3 linked regions of the Homo sapiens genome follow. The protein of the gene in region 1 purifies or fractionates together with the protein of each later gene. This does not show direct contact. Each region holds a gene or a part of one and is shown on either strand. Other genes may lie near its edges.

Region 1 (7,335 bases):
CACCCTACACTGCTGTGAGGCTTCAGTTAGTCTGAAACACACAAGTTTAAAGATAAGCAGAATAAGTTTGTGTGTATTCCTTTTTCAGTAAGAAGAAAAAAAGTTTCCCTTCTTTGTTGTTTTGTTGTAACTAATGACTTCTGAGTTATTATCCACAAAATTATGGGATATGTAGAATAGGTAGAAGATCCTATTACATCAATAAAAAATGCATTTAGATAGGGCAGGGGGAGGGGTGCAAGGTATTTATGTTTTACATAAAGTGGTACAATGTTAGCTCGAACTAGACTGTGAAAAAATAAAGATGTATATGAACAGTCCTTATGGCAACCACATTATTAATTCAAAGAGGTATAGCTAAGTAAATACCAATAGGTTAACTTAAAATGAAATTCATAACGATAGGAAGGAGGTAGAGTAACAAGAAAGGAAATTTTGAAAGTATTTCAAACTGAAAGATAATAAAAATACAACATACCAAAATTTGTAGGATGTAGCCCAAGCAGTGCTACAGGGAAAGTTACAGCTTTAAGTGTTTATTTTAGAAACTAACAAAGACGGCTGGGCACGGTGGCTCACGCCTGTAATCCCAGCACTTTGGGAGGCCGAGGTGGGTGGATCACCTGAAGTCAGGAGTTTGAGACCAAGCTGGCTAGCATGGTGAAACCCCACCTCTACTAAAAATGCAAAAATTAGCCAGGTGCGGTGGCATGCACCTGTAGTCCCAGCTACTCGGGAGGCTGAGGCAGGAGAATCGCTTGAACCTGGGAGGCAGAGGCTGCAGTGAGCCAAGATCGTGCCACTTCACTCCAGCCAGAGTGACTCTGTCTCCAAAAAGAAACTAACAAAGACTACAATCAGTGACCTAGGTTCTATTAGAAGAAGCTAGAGAAAGAAGAGCAAAGTAAATCCAAATTTAGTAGAAGCCAATGAAATGGGAAAAAGAGAAACTAAGAAAATATTCCAACAAATGTGATGAATGAAATGGACAAATTCCTTGAACAAGTGGATCTGGTACTACTTACAACTTAGGGTAAACTAATTTCAAATTCTACTTCTGGGGCCTTAAAAAAAAAAGAACCCAGAGCAGCAACAAAAACTCAGAAAATGTTATTTAAAAAGAAAAAGAATATTGTCTACAAAAATTATAAAGTGCCTAGGGATAAACTTAACAAAGATATAAGCTCTTTATGTTGAGAAATATAAAACTTTATTGAAAGATTTTTAAAAACTTAAATAGTTATATTCTTGAACAGGAAATGAGCTTGGTATTGTAAAGATAATAATTCTTCCCAAATTGATCTATAATCTCAATGCAATTATAACCAAAATTCCAAAAGGGTAACTAAATGTTACAGAGGATGCTATTATGGAAGAACAAAGGGCCAAGTATAGTTGACACACTCCTAAAGAACAAGATGTCAAAGACTGCTCTCAAAACTTTGATCATCTTGATGGTGGTTATGGTTTCACAGGTGTATGAATGTCAAATTGTACACTTTATATGCACATTATTGTGTGTCATTTAGACCTAGGTAAAGCTGTTTTAAAAACAAAAACAAAAAAAAGCCCGGCAAAACAAGCCTGGGCAACATAGTGAGACCTTGTTGCTACTAAAAATAAAAAATTAGCTGGGTGTGGTGGCACAAGCCATGGGCCCAGCTACTTGGGAGGCTGAGGCAGGAGGATTGCTTGAGGCCAGGAAGTTGAAGCTGCAGTGAGCAGTGATCACGCCACTACATTCCAGCCTGGGCAACAGAGCAAGACCTGGTCTCAGAAAATATATTAAGCTGGGTGTGGTGGCTCATGCCTGTAATCCCAACACTTTGGGAGGCCAGGGCAGGCAGATTGTTTGAGTTCAGGACTTTGAGACAAGTCTGGGCAACGTGGCAAAACCCTGGCTCTACAAAAAAATTTTAAAAATTAGCTGGGTGTGGTGATGTACACCTGTAGTCTCAGCTACTCAGGAGGCTGAGGTGGGAGGACTGCTTGCCCCTGAGAGGTCAGGGCTGCAGTGAGCTGTAATCATATCACTGCTCTCCAGCCAGGGCAACAGAGCAAGCCCCGTTTCAAAAAAAAAAAAAAAAAAGTTATTTAGCAATATACATACAGACATACAAATGGAAGAGTTAAAAAGCAAAGGAATGATTAACTCAACATGTAAAACGGTAATTACCGGGAGTGAGGGAAAGGGAAGGGTATGTGCCAGTGGGGAAGGGACGCATAGGGAGCTTGTCATGTTCTAGTATAGGTAGTATTCTATTTCTGAAACAGAATGCTGTATGTCTTACTATCATTCTTTTAACTACATGTGTATTTTATACAACCTTTTGCATATATGATAAGTTTCACAATTTTGAAAAAATGAGCGTTTGTAAAGAGGAACACAAAAGAACCAACCATTAGCTAAACTTATTATTTTGGGGGTACTCAAAACCTTTCAAACAGCACTTGATGACTACGATTAAGATCTTTCCTGCTGATTTAAAAATGGCAAAACTCTTCCTCTGTTTGAGACAGACGGGTTTTCAATTTATTTTTTTTTTTTTGGAGACAGGGTCTCACACTGTCACCCAGGCTGGAAGTACAGTGGTGCAATCTTGGCCTCTGCCTCCAGGGTTCAAGCGATCCTCCCACCTCAGCCTCCCTGGGACTACAGGTGCAAGGCACCACCTCTGGCTAATTTTTGTATTTTCTGTAGAGATGGGGTTTCACCATGTTGGCCAGGCTGGTATGGAACTCCTGGGCTCAGGTGATCTGTGCACCTCATCTTCCCAAAAGTGCTGGGATTAAAGACGTGAGCCACCGCACCCGGCCGGTTACCAATTTCAAACAAGAAAAGTAAAAACCAAACAGAAAAGCTATTGCTTACTACCCTAACTTGGTACATTTCTGTGCTTGTTAATAACTAATAATTAACTTGTCCTCTCACAACCACCTTGAGATGCAGGGGTACAGGGTAAATTAGTACTGAGATAGTACCTAGCACTAAAATAGAATTATCTTTCTTGCACACTTTTTCTACAGAGGATGATAGTTTTTCCCTTCAAAGCACTGGTAATAGTCTTATTTTCTTCCTTCCATTTCTGCTTACTTGGTTACTGTCTTTATCAAACTATTAAAATAGTAAATACGACCAGATGCGGTGGCTCACACCTATAAACCAAGCACTTTGGGAGGCCCAGACAGGAGATCGCTTGAGCTCAGTGGGGCCCGGCTGCAGTGAGCCGTGATGGCACCACTGCACTCCCGCCTAGGTGGCCGAGAGAGACCCTGTCTCAAACAAAATAAAAAATAAAAATAATAAAATAGTAAATATACTGCAATTGTCTCCACCTCACTTCACCTGACAACACTATTTTGCTGTAATGGCCATAGAATCTTGATCTGACCACCGCCCATAGTAAGCAGGGAACTCAGCCTTCCAACATTAATTAAGAGCCCAACAATTTTAGGTTTCAGTTAGAAAGGACAGCTGCGCTTCAGGCTTGGTTCTTGCCAACTACTCAGCTATTTTGGATGAGCTGCACATTTTGTCTGTAACTTCCTCCATAAGTTTTTAATCAAGAGATCTTCCAGGAATGTAGGGCCTGCTTCACCTTCCACAGCAGCTGCGCAAAACATGCAAAACATACACTTCGATTTGTGTTTTCTGTTAGCTTTAGCTACTTCCCTCAGCCCAGACTCCCTTCAGTCTTTTGTTTTGAATAACAACCTACTGTGAAGCTTCTTAAACACTAGTTTTATTTAAAGCTTGTATTATCCTTTTCCTTTTTTTTTTTTTTTTTTTTGAGACGGCATCTCGCTCTGTTGCCCAGGCTGCAGTGTAGTGGTGCGATCTCTGGCTCACTACAGCCTCCACCTCCCAGGCTCAAGTGAATCTTCCTCCTCAGCCTCCCGAGTAGCTGGGACCACAGGGGCAGGCCAACAAGCCTGGCCTATTTTTGATTTTTTGTAGAGACGAGGTCTTGCTATGTTGCCCAGGATAGTCTGGAACTCTATTATAATCTTTGTCTTAATCTCATGGAGACGCCCCCGTGGTCACTGACTGGAGGAAGGAAATACACATTTTAAAGGTTTTAAATTTCCTATAGAAGGGTCTAGAACGTACCGCGCTATAACGAACATAGTAGTAAGACCACCGCCACACTCCTGAGGAAACAAGGTCACGCCCCTCTGCGGGCCGCTTGATCGGGTCTTTAATTAATCCCGCCGCGGCCTTCCCGCCTACCCCCGAGCGCGCACTTCCGGTCGCGAGGGCGCTCGGGAGCGCGCCCCGCGAGCCTCCACCAACCAGCGGCTCCGCCTGGCCAGACAGAGTGCGCGCGCGCACGTTGTGCGCAGGTTCGAATCTCCGCCGCTTCGCGGTTGCTTCTCAACGTCCGGGCCGCATCTCGGCGGCGGCGAGGGCTGAGCGCGGGAGCTGCCTCCGAGCCGGAGCCCCAGCCCTAGGCCCTGCGCGAGCTGCCCCGCCCTACCCCCTCCAGCGTCCTGTCGCCTCCTCGCCCGACTTCGGCCTGTCCCTCTCTCACGCGCTCAGTCCTCGCTCTTCGCCCCCCGCAGCTATCGGCACTCGGTCTCCCGCGCCTGGCGGGCTCCGCCCGAGCCTCTGGGCCCATGGCCAAGCGGCGTGCGGCCGAGCCGGTGACGTTCCACGTGCCTTGGAAGCGGCTCCTGCTTTGCGACTTCGCTGAGCAGCCGCCGCCACCGCCTCTCTGGATCCGGCCGCCCGGGGTCGCGCATGCTGGGCAGCTCCTCGGCGTCCCAGAGCAGCACCGAAAGCGCAAAATCGACGCAGGGACCATGGCAGAGCCCTCGGCTTCGCCCAGCAAGCGCCGTGACAGCGGGGACAACAGCGCCCCGAGCGGCCAGGAGCGTGAGGACCACGGTCTGGAGACAGGCGATCCGCCGCTGCCGCCGCCGCCCGTACTGCCGGGGCCGGGGGAGGAGCTCCCGGGCGCCCGGCTCCCGGGGGGCGGTGGCGACGACGGGGCGGGGCGCGCAGGACCCCCGCGGGGAGACTGGGGGGTCGCATCGCGCCAGGTAGGGGCTGGGGGCGGGTGGGCTGAGGGGCGAAGGGGCTTGCCTTTTCCCCACACACACAAAACGCCCCGGTTCCCACTCATGACTTGTGTAGGTTAAGACGCCTGAGGGGGTTGAAAGAAGGGGTCACCGCTCCGGGAGAGGACGCCGACCGCCAGAAGCACACCCCGAGAGTCCGATGGGCAGAAAGCACTGGGCTGGGCGAGGGGGAAACAGACCGTGGTCGGGAGCGATAGAAGTGGCCTTGCGGCGTCAGCGCCGCGCTCCGTAAAAGGGAAACGGGACCGTGGGTCGTGGCGGGCTGTGAGCATGGCGAGAACGCAGACCGTCAGGGCATAGGTTCAGCCCAAAGACAAACGACAGATAAAGGTGTAGAGGGCCTTCCTGGGTTTAACGATGATTAGTCTAGAATTCGGGATAGAGTTCTTTTTCTAGAGGGAGACCAGTGTGGTAGCCATTGATTAATTGAACGTCCTACCGGCTGGTACAGCTTCTGGAGAAAAGGATGGACCACCGTACCTTGGTCAAAGCTTTGTTTTAACTCATAGTGTTAAATCTGATCCTAGGCAAAAGTATCATTGAAAATTAATTTGGGGGCGGGGCGTGGTGTCTCACGCCTGGAATCCCAGGACTTTGGGAGGCCACGGCGGGTGGATCACCTGAGGTCGGGAGTTCGAGACCAGCCTGGCCAATAGGGTGAAACTCTGTCTCTATTAAAACACAAAAACTAGCTGGGTGTGGTGGTGTATGCCCGTAATCACAGCTACTCGGGAGGCTGAGGCACAAGAATCACTTTAACCTGGGAGATGGCGGTTGCAGTGAGCTGAGATTGGGCCAGTGCACTCCAGCCTGGGCCACAGAGTGAGACGCTGTCTCAAAAAAAAAGAAAAGAAAAGAAAGAAAAAAGAAAATTAATTTGGGCCTTAAGGCGTATATGAGAATCATTGGCGGGTTTTTATTCAAGACATGAGCCTGCCTCATCTCTGCATGTAAGAATCCTGAGAAGATCTAGGTATGCCTCGGTTTGCCTAGATCTCTGCTGCCCGGCCGCTAGCCGGTAAGAACACTTGAAACGTGACTAGTCCAAATGGAAATGTGCTCTAAGTTTAAAATATACACGAAATTTCGTGGATTTAATAAATGAAGATAAAATAGCTCAATTTTATATTGATTACACATGAAATAACTTGGCTATATTGAAGAAAATATATTAAAATTAATACCAGAAGTTTCTTTTACTTTTTAAATACAGCTACTAGAAAATTTTAAATTATGTTTTTGGAGCATTATATATTTATTGGACAGCTTTGGTCTAGACTTAGGAATTCATACTACTTTTTCACAATCCTGAATGGCAGGGGACTTGGGAGATGAAGAACCAAGTACAGGTTTCTCAGAATTCACCAAATTCTCTTCAGCTGTCTGATAGCATCCTCCCAACGTTTTTCTATTTTCTCAAGTATCTTATGTCAGGGTTTTCAAATACCTTTCCAAAAAAATAAATGAAATTTCTTAGGCATGACTTGTTCATGTGAAAAATCCAATAAAATAACGAGAGTTTTATAGTTGGGAAAGACTTTTTTTTTTTTTTTCCTATGGTTGAAACATGAGCCTTATTTAAACTTTTTCTTCAGATTGCTCTCAGATATTCAAAATCAACTGAAAACAGATGGATAGTCTTCTAAACCATCCATCCATAATGGATATGGAGATTAGGGACTGTGTAGTTTGAAAACTTTTTGAAAGCTCTTCAGACCATTTTAGTACTCCACTCATGCATAGGCTTGTCTCCTACCAGAATACAGAATACACTGTCTATACTATGCCACACAGTGATAAGAGGGAAATATGGAAATGGCAGTAGGCAAAGCGTAAGAGTTCTCTAGTAGCCTGAAACGGTGATGCTTGCTTAGTCTTAGACTCAACTCTTTTCCCCCACAGCAGTAACTAGATCTGGCAGCTCTCTACTTCCTATAGTCGCTGCAAGCGCATGACAGGGAAAAAGGTTGGCTCCAGGGGTTCTTTCTTCACCAAGACTACCCTTGTTCTCTTTGTTGTTTTTTAAAAAAGGGTCTTGGGGTCTCGCTCCCATGCCCAGGCTGGAGTGCAGTGGCACCATCCCAGCTCACTGCAACCTTAGCTTCCTGAATAGTTGGGACTGCAGGTGCACACCACCACGCTGGACTAATTTTTTTTTTTTTGTGGAGATGGGGTTTTGCCATGTTACCCAGGCTGGGCTCAAGTGATCCTCCCGCCTCTGCCTACCAAATAGCTGGGATTACAGGCGTGAGC
Region 2 (7,033 bases), on another chromosome or scaffold:
GGGGAGGAGGGGGTGGATACACCAGGCAGGTGTGGGAAGGAGAGGCCTCACTACCTGAACCTGGGATCCAGAAACGAGGGATGCTGCTCACACTTGGGGAAGGGCTCCCCCGAGCTCCTGCCAGGACGGTGAAGTCTCTCCCCAGGTGAAGAGAACCAGAGCCACCAGCTCTGAGGCCCTCTTGGCAACAGGGGGCTGCTGGGGACAGGAAGAGTGTCACATTTCATGGATGGAAAAAGCCAGCGTGAGAGCATGTGAGTGAGTGTGTGTGTGTGTGTGTGTGTGTGTGTGTGTACGCGTGCATGCGCAATTCAGGATTCTTGATGGAACAGGCTCTTGAACTCCAGCAGCAGGGGTGGGGGAAGGGGATGGGGTGGCGTGGCTCAAAGCCCCTTTCTCAGGTTCCTGCTTCTCAATAACAGCAACAATAATGGCTTACCTTCATCGAGCATTTTCTGTGTGCCAGACACAATTTTTTTTTTTTGAGACAGAGTCTCGCTCTGTCACCCAGGCTGGAGTGCAGTGGCTAGATCTTGTCTCACTACAACCTCTATCTCCTGGGTTCAAGCGATTCTCATGCCTCAGCCTCCTAAATAGTTGGGATTACAGGTGCCGGCCACCACGCCCAGCTAATTTTTTGTATTTTTAGTAGAGATGGGGTTTCACCATGTTGGCCAGGCTGGTCGCAAACTCATGACCTCAGGTGATCTGCCTGCCTCAGCTTCCCAAAGTGCTGGATTACAGGCATGAGCCACCGTGCCCAGCCAATGCTGTTCCAAGCACTTCACACATACTAACCCCCGACTTTCCAGTTAGGAAACCAAGGGTACAGCTGGCGAGTAATGTGCCCAAGGGAGCTAGGAAGCAGCAGCACCAGGACTTGGACACAAGCCTGAACCCAGAGTCTCCTCTCTTAACCTAAATGCATGCACTGCCCAGCCAGGGACGGTGGCCAGGCCATCTGTTGAGAGGGCCCTGTCTCTCTATCTATGTAAGGGAGCTGTCTAGCTGTGCCCTCCCCACATGCCCACTTTCCTCCCTATAACCTGTCTATTCCCTGTTTTCCAGGGAAACAGTGCTGCTGAGAGCCCACACTGGGACCTTAACCCCCAGGTTCCGTGGCCAGGCGTGGTGACTCACGCCTGTAATCGCAGCACTTTGAGAGGCTGAGGCAGGTGGATCACCTGAGGTCAGGAGTTTGAGAGCAGCCTGGTCAACATGGTGAAACCCTGTCTCTACTAAGAATACAAAAATTAGCCGGGCGTGGTGGCACATGCCTGTAATCCCAACTACTCGTGAGGCTCAGGCAAGAGAATCGCTTGAACCCGGGAGGTGGCGGCTGCAGTGAGCAGAGACTGTGCCATTGCAGTCCGGCCTGGGCGACAAGAACAAAACTCTGTCTCAAAAAAAAAAAAAGAAAGAAAAAAAAAGCCGGGCACGGTGGCTCATGCCTATAATCCTAGCACTTTGGGAGGCCAAGGCAGGTGGATCATGAGATCAGGAGTTCAAGACCAGCCTGGCCAACATGGTGAAACCCCATCTTTACTAAAAATACAAAAATTAGCTAGGCATGGTGGTGGGCGGGAGCCTGTAATCCCAGCTACTCGGGAGGTGGAGGCAGAGAACTGCTTGAACCCAGGGGGCAGAGATTGCAGTGAGCCGAGATAATGCCACTGCACTCTAGCCTGGGTGACAGAGCAAGTCTCCATCTCAAAAACAAAAACAAAAAACAAAAAACCAAACAAACAAAAAAAACTCCCGGGTTCCTTGGGCCACGCAGAGCCTGCCTCTCTGGTTGAGGATCCCACGTGATTGTCCAGTTCAGAGGGTCCCAAACCTGCCCACACATCAGCATCACAAGAGAGGTTGTGGAATCCAGGCTCCTAGGCCCCAGGGCTAGGGGTCTGAGGTGGGCCCAGGAGTCTGGATTTTTCCTACCTTTCCCAGGTGATTTCTGATGTCAGCCACATTTGGGAATCACTGGTCCAATCCATCCCCTTGGTCCGCTGACACTGGGCTGCAATGCAGGGGTCTGGGAGGCGGTTCACAACAAGAGAACTGAAGGCAAGCCCTCCAACAAGAGACCCTGGCATGACCTCCTAACATCCCCAAGGAAACAGCCTCAGTAAACCCAGCCTGCACCCCATTCCCTTGACCTGTCTGCAACACACATTCCTTCCCCTAAAGAGGCCTCCAGTCTACCTCCTCCAGGAAGCCCTCCTTAATCTCATCCCATGTGGTCACTCCTTTGCACGTGCAGTCTTGGTTTGCCCAGTAGTTGACGTATTGGTACAAACCTGCTCCTTCTCCCTCTGCCAGGCCAGGGCCACATCTTTATTTCCTTGGTCTCCCTCTCCCTCACCATGGCTGGGACTGGGCATGACCAAGACACACTGTACATTCTGGCCTTAAGCAGCTACGTGAGGCCTGACACAGTGGCTCACACCTGTAATCCCAGCACTTTGGGAAGTGAGGGGAAGCTGAGGCAGGCAGATCAGTTGAGATCAGAAATTTGAGACCAGCCTGGCCAACATGGTGAAACCCCGTCTCTACTAAAAATACAAAAATTAGCTAGACGTGGTGGCAAGAGCCTGTAGTCCCAGCTACTCAGAAGGCTGAGGCACGAGAATTGCTTGAACCCAGGAGGCAGAGGTTGCAGTGAGCCAGGGTTGTGCCACTGTACTCCAGCCTGGGCAACAGGGTGAAACTCTGTCTCAAAAAAAAAAAAAAAGGCCGGGCACAGTGGCTCACACACCTGTAATCCCAGCACTTTGGGAGGCCAAGGTGGACAGATCACCTGAGGTCAGGAATTCAAGTCCCACCTGGCCAACATGGCAAAACCCCGTCTCTACTAAAAATACAAAAATTAGCCAGGCAGTGGTGCATATTACATACTGCAAGTTATACGGTGGTGCATGTAATCCCAGCTACTAGTCCGGGCGCGGTGGCTCACGCCTGTTATCCTAGCACTTTGAGAGGCCTAGGCGGGCGGATCACCTGAGGTCAGGAGTTTGAGACCAGCCTAACCAATGTGATGAAACCCCGTCTCTACTAAAAATACAAAAAAAATTTAGCTGGGCATGGTGGCAGGCGCCTATAATCCCTGCTATTCAGGAGGCTGAGATAGGAGAATTGCTTGACCCAGGAGGCAGAGGTTGCAATGAGCCCAGATTGTGCCATTGCACTCTAGCCTGGGCAACAAAAGTGAAACTCCATCTCAAAAATAATAATAATAATAATAATAATAATCCCAGCTACTTAGGAGACTAAGGCAGGAGAATCACTTGAAACCAGGAGGCAGAGGTTGCAGTGAGCCAAGATTGTGCCACTGCACCCCAGCCCGGGTGACAGAGTGAAACTCTGTCTCAAAAAAAAAAGCAGCAACATGGAAGGTACTTTTGTACTTTTGTGGTGCCACTGCACTCTAGCCTGGGTGACAGAGCAAGTCTCCCTCTCAAAAACAAAAAACAAAAAACAAAACAAACAAACAAAGTACTTTTAGGAACAGCTACCACCACTGAACCCGGTGAGATACCGTGTGCTGTATGAGGCATGTTACATTCATTATCTTATTTCACGGTCAACACTCTACGAGGAAGGTGATATTTTTATCACTGCTTCTTCGGGTGAGGAAACCGAGGCACAGAGAGGCTAAATACCTGACCCAAAGTCACAGAACCTTTAGGTGAAATGGGAATGAGTTGGAATTCTAAATGCCCATGCTCTTGTCTTCATTTCCCTGTCCAAGAGCCCAACATCCTAAGATGCCAGACTCCTGGCTGCAGACAAAAGCCAGCGCTTCCAGTGCCTTCTCTCTGGCCTCTGCAGCACAAGCACCCAACTGCAGTCACGTGGTGAGGTCTTTTCCCAGCTCACTGTTAGGCCAGGCCAGAGAAACCCTTAAGGCATGGATGTGGAAGATTCATTTTCGAGTACCAAGGCCCCTCCCATCTGCTTTCTGTCTGGTCCAGCCAGCTGCCTTGGGCTAAGGCCAAGGCCTGGCACCCAGAGCTCTCAGCCCTCCCCACCTACTGCCCAAAGTCCAGCAATGACTTCCCCAGATGAACCCGTGATCCAGGATCAGCAGAAATCAATGAGATACAACAGAGAGGGTGCTAAAGACAGATTGCTGGGCAGGGAATTTAGCCTCTCCGTGCCTCAGTTTTCTCATCTGTAAAATGGGAATAATACAGATGATAGTACCTCCCTCCAGAGACTTTCATGAGGATTCAATGAGCCAATGCCGTAAAGCGCTTGGCACAGTGCCTGCCTTGGTAGCTGCGGGGGGGTTCTGGCGACAGGGTGCCTCCCCTAAAGGGGAGCTGTGTCTTGGTAGATGCTGCCCTGGGGGTCAGGAATAAAGGGGAGCTGCCTTCCTGAGAGCAAGAATGATGCAGAGGGTGGGGTGGCTCACACCTGTAATGTCAACACTTAGGGAGACCAAGGCAGGAGGCTTATTTGAGGCCCTGAGTTCAAGACCAACCTGTGCAACAAAGTGAGACCCTGTCTCTACAAAAAATTAAAAAATTAGCCAGACATGGTGGCACGCACCTCTAGGCCCAGCTACTCAGGAAGCTGAGGCAGGAGGATTGCTTGAGCCCAGGAGGTGAAGGCTGCAGTGAGCTATAGTCATGCTACTGGGCCACAGGAATTAGCCAGGTGCAGTGGCTCACACCTGTAATCCCGGTCTTTGGGGGGCCAAGGTGGGGATGATCACTTGAGCCTGAGGGTTCAAGACCAGCCGGGGCAACACAGTGAGACCCTGTCTGTACAAAAAAATAAAATTTAGAAAAACTTTTAAGAGAAGAATGATGTGTGCGGTGGCTCACACCTGTAATCCTAGCACTTTGGGAGGCCAAGGCGGGTGGATCACATGAGGTCAGGAGCTCGAGACCAGCCTGGCCAACATGGCGAAACCCCATCTCTACTAAAAATACAAAAATTAGCTGGGCATGATGGTGGGCGCCTGTAATCCCAGCTACTCGGGAGACTGAGGCAGGAGAACTGCTTGAACCCAGGGGGCAGAGGTTGCAGTGAGCTGAGATCATGCCATTTCACTCCAGACTAGGTGAGCGAGACTCCATCTCAAAAAAAGAAAAAGAAAAAGAATGATGTGGAGAGACTGACGGTGAGGGCTTGGTTGGGGTGTGCGTATGTGATGAGCTCCTGGAAGAATGGGACCTCTGGGCACCCCTGGTTTGACTGTGCCACCGGATGCCCCCTCCTCCCCAAGCAGTCCCAGCCCAAGGCGTGGGTGGTCACTGTGTGGCCTGAGTCAAGGCACAGTCATGACACACCCAGTCTGCTCCCTGGGGAGGCGGGAATGAATGAAGCCCTTCCGCCCTCTCCCCTCCCCCATCCTTCATCCCCACCCCAGGCTTGAACTGAAGCCAGGAACAGGGTCTGGCAGGAGCTTGGGATGCCCTGCACGTGGGAGCCAACCTTAGCCTCCCCGGGGCCAGCTGCCCACTTAGGTCTCCCCAGACCCGGCCCCACCCCCACACCATCCAGTGCAGCCTGACTGACTCCTGGGACCCTTCTGTTCTCTAGTAGGGAACAGCATGACCTGAACGGCCAGCTGAGCCTCTGATCTCTGCAGCTGTCCTTCTCTCACCACGGCCAAATCAAGGCCCACAGGGAAAGGCAGGAGCTGGAGATCTGCTAGAAGTTTCTACAAACGGGAGGAAGGGCTGTGGGACATCTGACCTCGGCTCTAGGGATATCTGCCTGTTTGGATGTTGCCTTTTATTCTCCCAGTTCCCTGTGATGGAAGATATTGCTTTGTTGAAGCCTTCTTGTGTCTCCCATCTTGTTCTGGAAGCCCCCCCAGGATGGCGCAACATCTCTTCCCTCAGACGTGGGGTGTCTACTGAAGTGAGGTGCTCTGTACCCCCCTCTCATTGGGAGCCCCCAAAAGTGAAAACGGTCCATGTTTCTCTCCATGCACCAAGGCCATGCGTTTTGGGTGAGGGGACAGACAAGCTGCTGACAGCACCCCACCCATCTCACTCCCCGAGACTCCACAGCAAATCCCCTTCCCTACTCCAGCTGAATCCACCTCAGTAGCTGCCTCCTCCCATCCATCTGCCAGGGAAAGGGAAGAGCTGGCCTCTTTGGGGGCTGCTGGGGTACCCCCCACCAAACACACACACTAGTCAGTGGGATGCTCAGGCAAGACCTGCAGGGAAGATGAGCAACCCACTCTGTCCTCCTGTCCAGCTGGCTAAAGGTCACACCTCAGCTGGGTCTGGGGGAGCTGAGCAGGCTCCCCCAGGCAGCATTTCCAGGCAACAGCACCCCCTTCCCGTCCAGAGGTGCAGAAATGAACAGTAGGTCTGAGTTCCAGACAATGACCCCACCTCCAACCAGCTCTGGCAATGAGAGACCAGATGTTTAACCTACCAGGACCTCAGTCTTCCCATCTCCAAAATGGAGTTGATGATTTCTTACTTAGCAAAGGGATCCTGGCCGGGCGTGGTGGCTCAGGCCTGTAATCCCAGCACTTTGGGAAGCCAAGGTGGGCAAATCGCTTGAGGTCAGGATTGAGACCAGCCTGGCTAACATTGCAAAACCCCGTCTCTACTAAAAATACAAAAATTAGCCAGGCATGGTGGTGCATGCCTGTGATCCCAGCTACTTGGGAGGCTGAGACAGGAGAATCGCTTGAACCCTGGAGGTGGAGGCTGCAGTGCGCTGAGATCGTGCCACTGCACTCCAGCCTGGGCGACAAAGCGAGACTCTGTCTCAAAGAAAAAAAAAAAAAGAAAATGAAAACTTAAAAAAAAAAAAAAAAATGGAAAACAGGGAGGGATCCAAATGGAGAAGGGAAGCAAAGGGCCCAACTCAGACTGGCCTGACATTAGCCCCAGGCCTGGGGATCTGCTCTCTTGTGCATCAGTGAGCACAGATGTGCTTTCTACCTACCAGGTGCTCTACCTGGGTTACCTCAGTAGCACACTGATCCTGTCCTCCGCCCATAGCAGCACCCTCTGTGAAGGCTTCCTTGGATCTGCTCTGCCCTCCTCCTGTCACT
Region 3 (7,033 bases), on another chromosome or scaffold:
AGTTTTAATCCATTGCTTTTTGCCCTGTATTTTACACTTAGAATTTTGTTAATGGGTCTTGGTTATCCCAGTGACATTGTTGTTGAGGTGCATCCAGTGCTCAGGCAGGTCACAGCAACAATGGCGTGTGTGCGTGCATGCGTGTGTGTGTGTGATGTTCCCCAGCCCCATGAACAGCACAGTGGAATATCATCTCAGCCACTGATTGTCAGCTCAGTGCTGGCCTCTAGAAGCTAAGCCTTATGGAATCCTGCATGTGGATCCTCTTAGATGATTTCTCTTACCTGAGTACCCCTGGTGGACCTGGCTTAGCAATGGTTTGTATGATAGCTCAGAAAACAAGCATTAAGTCCATCAGCACATTATACAAATTCAATAGGCAGAGAGTCACTTGCTACTCTCAAAGGATCGGCTTCTGAAATGCAGAAGGTGGAAGTTCTCATGTGACCCCATCCTTGCTCTGTAGAATGCCACCCAGAGGATGTTTGAAATTGACTATAGCCGGGACTCCTTCCTCAAGGATGGCCAGCCATTTCGCTACATCTCAGGAAGCATTCACTACTCCCGTGTGCCCCGCTTCTACTGGAAGGACCGGCTGCTGAAGATGAAGATGGCTGGGCTGAACGCCATCCAGACGTAAGTAGGAGGGCATGTGGCTCTCACCTAGGCCTGAACACCCACTCTGGAGAGAAGATACAACTGTATTTCTCAGGGTGGCTATTTTATTGCTCAGAAATGGGAAATGGTCCAGTGTGATGTTCTGGGAGGGGCTTGTCATGAGCCGGACTGGCCCTTTTTCAAATAATTAACTACTTCTTCCAATCTTCAATTTTAATCATCAGAAATCATTAAATAAATAGCTTAAAAAGGAAAAGGATGGGGGAAGCAAACAGAAGTAACAATGATTGAGCACTTACCAGATACAGGGCACTTTATACTAATGATTCCATTTCCTCGAGATAGGTATTATTGTTCCTGTTTATAGCTGGTGAAACTGAAATTTGCCCAAGGCCATATCTTTGGTCAGAGGTTCAGCTAGTATTTGAAGGGAAGGGAAGGCATGCAGGCAGCTGTAGCACAGGTATGGCTGTAGTCATACAAAAAGCTAGGTTAACAGGAGAAAAGCATAACAGATATGTAAGTTTTATCTGACATGAGAGTCTTCAGAAAAGAAGACCCAAGGAAAACTTTTTACACTTAGATTCCATGAAAGGTTCTGACCTAATGGTGGTGGACTGAAGTGGGAAACCCTCAAGGCCTGCCTCAACAGATTCTTCTTGGCCTTTCTGGGTGGCATTCCTTCCTTCTGGGTATGGAGCAGGACCCCTCTGCAATGAGGGTCTAGAAGGGAGAAGGGAGAGGTGACCTTTCTAGGTTTTCTGGCTTGCTTTGGGAGAGAGGGGTTCTAATTTCTATGACCCACACTGGGGGAAGATGAATTCTGGTTTGACTTGCTTCAGGGGAGAAGGAGGGGTGGGCAACAGAAGAGCAGGAGAAGGCCAGAGAAAGAAGATTTGCTTCTAAGGCCTTCCGATCTCCTTTAGTTCAAAGTACTTAGCATGCCAAGGTGCCATACTTTGGGGTATTGTTTTCTGAGCCCCAATAACAGAATAAGCCTTGTGCTTAGGTAGATTTCTGAAACCCAGTTTGGCTTTGTGGTTCTGCTGCGGTAATTGTATAACTTCAGGGTGTAGAATTATCCCAATAGCTATCTCTCTGCATCTCTTTTGCTATTGCAAAGTAACTAACTAACAGGCAAGAAAGTTGGTGTGGCTGGCTGCTCTGGCTCTTGCAGTGCTGATGTGGATTGCTGATAACTTCTCAAAGATGAAGAGTGAGAAAACCCAGAGGCAGATTCCGAAGATAGATACTTAGGGAGAATGCGCTCATTATTCTGGTTCTAAGGCCACTGGCAGAGTGAACCCAAGTTCACCTGTTTATAATTCCGACAGTGAGTTCTGGAAGACCAAGACTGTTCCAGGGAACCCTGAAATCATGGGATCACACACACGCAAAATGACACAACCCAGGGTCTTCAAAGAGAGCTTTGTGATGGTAATGGATGGCTCCATATTTAACTTTGTATCCCATGCTGTCTGTAGGTAGACAGAGGAGCTGGTAGAAGGTTTTGTCATTTTACCTCCTGCCACATGATTCCTGACAAAATCTTTTGTCAGAGGATCTAGGGCTTGGAGTTTTTCCTACACGTACTAAAAATTATTTCTTCAAAAAATAAATATGTCTCTTACTACTTTTCAGCAAAATATTCTTATTTTTCCTAAGCCTCACATGGACATATATAATTTTTATTTTTATTTATTAAAACAATTTTTTAGAGCTGGGGTCTTGCTCTGTCACCTGGCTGGAATGTAGTGGCTCAATCATAGTTCACTGAAACCTTAAAGTGGGCTCAGGTGATCCTCCCACCTCAGCCTCCTGAGTAGTTGGGATTACAGGCACTGCTACCACACCAGCTAATTTTTTTGTTTTGCTTTGTTTTTAGAGATGAGGTCTCACTATGTTTCCCATGGTGGTCTTCAACTCCTGGACTCAAGCGATCCTACTGCTTTGGCCTCCCAGAGTGCAGGGATTACAGAAGAGAGCTACTGTGCCCAGCTATAATTTTTATGTAATAGGAATTAGTGCTGATATAACTCTGGAGTTTTCTGTTGTTGTTGTTGATTTTAAGAAGTGTCCCCATGAAGTCTGACTAGCTTGGGGAGCTGCTGTAAAAATTCATAACAAGGCCCCTCCCAAGAGGCTGCCAAGCGGGAAGGTCTATGTGTCCTGTGGTTTATGGTTCTACACCATATCTTTCTCTATAGACAGTTTAGAAATTTATGTAGGATACTGGATTTTTGAGCTCTTTCCCCTTCCACAGAGCACCTCAATTCAATTATTTATGCAAAATATAATTACAAAAAGCTAAAAACCTGACTTACAAACAAGTATATAATGGACATATGTCAGAAATTTATTTAACTGGATAAAGAAAATGTGGTACATATACACCATGGAATACTACAAAAATCACAAAAAAGAATGAGATCATGTCCTTTACAGCAAACTGGATGCAGCTGGAGGCTATTATCCTGAGCAAACACAGGGACAGAAAACCAAATACCACATGTTCTCACTTATAAGTGGTAGCTAAACATCGAGTACATATGGACACAAAGAAGGGAACAACAGACAATGGGGCCTACTTGAGGGTGGAGGGTGGGAGGAGGGTGAGTTCCCCTATCGTGTACTAGGCAGATTATCTGGGTGACTAAATAATCTGTACACCAAACCCCCATGACACGCAATTTACCTGTATAACAAACCTGCACATGTACCCCTGAACCTAAAATAAAAGTTTTTAAAAATTTATTTAACTTATTACTGAGGAAACTAGCTAGATGGTAAAGCTAATTCAAAGGAGAATTTGAGGAAGGGAGGTTTACGGTCAGTCAAGAAAGTCATGTTCAAATAAAGTTATCTTTAGAGATAAAACTGGTTAGTATCATAAAGGGCAATGAATGAAAAAGCAACCTTTAGAGTTGTCTTCTCTGTATGACAATCATTTGTTTCTCTCTCAGGCAATAATCTACAAATTAATCTGTAACTTCAAAGTTCTTCCCTTAATCAATAGTAAATAGTAAGTCAAACAAAATATCTCCCCTGGAGAATGAAGGAAGCCTCAGTGGGCCCATTGGACAGTCCTCCATTATAACATGGAAAGGAAATGCAGTCACCCTTTTGCCTTATATCCAAATTCTGGATAATTTTTCTTTTCTTTTCTTTCTTTATTTTGACACAGGGTCTCACTCTGTCATCCAGTTTGGAGTGCAGTGGCACAATCACAGCTCACTGCAGCTTCAACCTCCCTAGCTTAAGCAAACCTCCACCTCAAGCCTCCAGGGTAACTGGGACCACAGGCATACACCCTGGCTAATTTTTTTGTGTTTTTTGTAGAGACGGGGTTTCACCATGTTTTCCAGGCTGGTGTCAAACTCCTGGGCTCAAGCCATCCACCCACCGTGACTTCCCAGAGTGCTGGGATTAGAGGCCTGAGCCACTGTGCCCAGCCTTGGATAATTTTTCTTTCAAAGCGCCTTCTCCCTCTTATCCATGTGTTAGCAATAGTCCTAATGAGGCCCTTTCCCCACGCTTCTTTCTTCTTGACTCTGCCAAGTATCCAGGAAGGGGCTGTGTGTGTCTTGGCAGGTATGTGCCCTGGAACTTTCATGAGCCCTGGCCAGGACAGTACCAGTTTTCTGAGGACCATGATGTGGAATATTTTCTTCGGCTGGCTCATGAGCTGGGACTGCTGGTTATCCTGAGGCCCGGGCCCTACATCTGTGCAGAGTGGGAAATGGTGAGTGTGGCTAGACTGGGCTCTACCTGGTGTGTGTGAGCTGGCAGGCAGCAGCTCTGGGGCAAAGGGAATTAAAGCAGACCTGCATTCCAGAGAGCATGGGGCCTGGGACTGTACCCAGCACAGGTGTCTTTTACCTTGACAAGGTGCCCAGGCAGAGAAACAGGCCAGGGTCAGGGCATGGGCTCTCCTCTTGGTGGTCACTCACATACCTCAGCTTGCTCATCTGTAAGAAGCAGTTAATGGTGTCTTCTCTATCTACGTCACAGGGTATTTGTGAAATTAAATTGAAAAATCTTTATGAAAAGGGCTTTGGTCCTTAAAACATTGCATTCATGCAGAGTGATCTTAATTGTCCTACATTCCAATTTCTAATTTCTCTGCAAGTTATAAACCAAAAAGCCCAGCTCAAATACCCCTTGTCCCTTGAAGCTTTTATTCTTTTCCATAACTACTAATAGTAATTTCTATCTCCTCTGAGCACCCTTCACGGAACAGACATTATAATGGCTTGTTTTCCCTGAACTAGGGAGGATTACCTGCTTGGCTGCTAGAGAAAGAGTCTATTCTTCTCCGCTCCTCCGACCCAGGTAGGTTGTTACAGATGTCTTGAGAAGATTTATAAAAGCTTCAGCCTAGGTGCGGTGGCTCACGCCTGTAATCCTGACACTTTGGGAGGCTGAGGCGGGTGGATTACCTGAGGTTGGGAGTTCGAGACCAGGCTGGCCAAAATGGCAAAACCTCGCCCCTACTAAAAATACAAAAAATTAGCTGGGCATGGTGGTGGGCGCCTGTAATCCCAGCTACTCAGGAGGCTGAGGCAGAAGGATTGCTTGAACCCTGGAGGCGGAAGTTGCAGTGAACCGAGATCGTATCAATGCACTATAGCCTGGGTGACAAAGCGTGACTCTGTCTCAAAACAAACAAACAAACAAAAAAGCTTCAACAATTTATATCAAAAGGGGGAGGTATTTTGAAGGCTGGGGTACCTCTGCACAAATACTTTTGAAAGTTTAGTGAAAGTCTGAGTGTTTATCACTGACCAGTGCATAGCAACAAACTAAACCTCTAGGAAATTAGGCTTTGAACTACGTAACCAGATCTTACTGATAAACTGGTAATTCTTTGAATTGGTATTGAACCCTGTTTGCGGTTGACCAACTGACTTCAGTGCTTTCTCTTCCTATTTACTTAGCATATTCCACAGCCAATGATAGCACCTCGCTAATCAAAATGACAAGTCAGGCATGGTGACTCACACTTGTAATCTCAGCACTTTGGGAGGCCAAAGTGGAGGGATTGCTTGAGCCCAGGAGTTTGATACCAGCCTAGGTAACATAGCGAGACCCTATCTCTATAAAAATTAGCCAGGTGTGCTGGCACATGCCTGTAGTCCGGGAGGCTGAGGTGGGAGGATTGCTTGAGCCTGGGAGGTTGAGACTGCAGTGAGCCATGATTGTACCACTGCACTCCATCCTGGGCAACAGAGAGGGACTTTGTCTCAAAAAAAGAAATAAGGTCGGGCGTAGTGGCTCATGCCTGTAATCCCAGCACTTTGGGAGGCCGAGGTGGGTGGATCACCTGAGGTCAGGAGTTCGAGACCAGCCTGACCAACATGAGGAAACCCTGTCTCTACTAAAAAATACAAAATTAGCTGGGTGTGGTGGTGCATGCCTGTAATCCCAGCTACTCGGGAGGCTGAGGCAGGAGAATTGCTTGAAGCTGGGAGGCAGAGGTTGCAGTGAGCCCAGATTGCGCCATTGCATTCCTGCCTGGGCAACAAGAGCGAAACTCTGTCTCAAAAAAAAAAAAAAAAAGAAATAAAAACAAAATGACAGTTTCTGGGATGGTGTCATTGGATTGCTTGGTAGCTGCAATGCCTTCTATATTCTGGCCACTTTTATAGAGCAATGTGTAAATGATAGTTTTTTTCTTTGTCTTACTCCAGTACCTTCATGTTTTGCACGCTTAGCATATTATTGGTGTTTTCACTGTGGTAACTCATTTAATCTTTATGCCAACTTTATGTGGCATGTACATTTATTATTCCTATTTGACAATATAAATATAGAATTTATTAGAACTTCATTTTATACGGAAAAAAAGCCTTCCTGTGACTGAGAAGAGGATACACTGTTCAGTCACTCTTTTCTTCATTCAGCAAACATTGCTTGGATATGTTCTATGCTCCAGGCTTTGTGTCCTGTGGCAAGGATGGTCTTAGTCTGTTTTCTGTTGCTTGTAACAGAATACCTGAAACTGAGTAATTTATAAAGAAAAGCATTTATTTCCTACAGTTATGGAGGCCAAGAAGTTCAAGGTGGAGGGGCTATATCTGGTGAGGGCCTTCTTGCTGGTGGGGACTCTGCAGAGTCCTGAGGGGGCACAGGGCATCACATGGTGAGGGGGCTGAGTGTCCTAGCTCAGATCTCTCTCCCTCTTCTTATAAAGCCACCAGTCCCATTCCCATGATGACCCATGAATCCATTAACCTATTAATCTATTAATCCATGAGTGGATTGATCTACTTATGAGGGCTGAGCCCTCATGACTCAACACCTCTTAAAGGCCCCACCTCTCAATACTACCACATTGGGGATTCGATTTCAACATGAGTTTCAGAGGGACAAACATTCCAACCATAGCAGATGGATACAGGCACACTGGTCCTCG

The links.
Region 2: the proteins of C9orf40 (region 1) and PLOD1 purify together in Homo sapiens (affinity purification with mass spectrometry; 2 studies listed by BioGRID and IntAct, with this or other methods). This does not show direct contact.
Region 3: the proteins of C9orf40 (region 1) and GLB1 purify together in Homo sapiens (co-immunoprecipitation; 2 studies listed by BioGRID and IntAct, with this or other methods). This does not show direct contact.

What each region holds. Positions count from the first base shown.
Region 1 is NC_000009.12:74,949,894-74,957,228, reverse strand, and holds the start of C9orf40 (uncharacterized protein C9orf40), read left to right. Parts: upstream 1-4,316; 5' UTR 4,317-4,617; coding exon 4,618-5,043; intron 5,044-7,335.
Region 2 is NC_000001.11:11,937,684-11,944,716, reverse strand, and holds part of PLOD1 (procollagen-lysine,2-oxoglutarate 5-dioxygenase 1 isoform 2 precursor), read right to left. Parts: intron 196-7,033; coding exon of another isoform or gene 55-195; intron 1-54. UniProt on the Homo sapiens protein: Part of a complex composed of PLOD1, P3H3 and P3H4 that catalyzes hydroxylation of lysine residues in collagen alpha chains and is required for normal assembly and cross-linkling of collagen fibrils.
Region 3 is NC_000003.12:33,066,147-33,073,179, reverse strand, and holds part of GLB1 (beta-galactosidase isoform a preproprotein), read left to right. Parts: intron 1-466; coding exon 467-636; intron 637-4,209; coding exon 4,210-4,360; intron 4,361-4,889; coding exon 4,890-4,950; intron 4,951-7,033.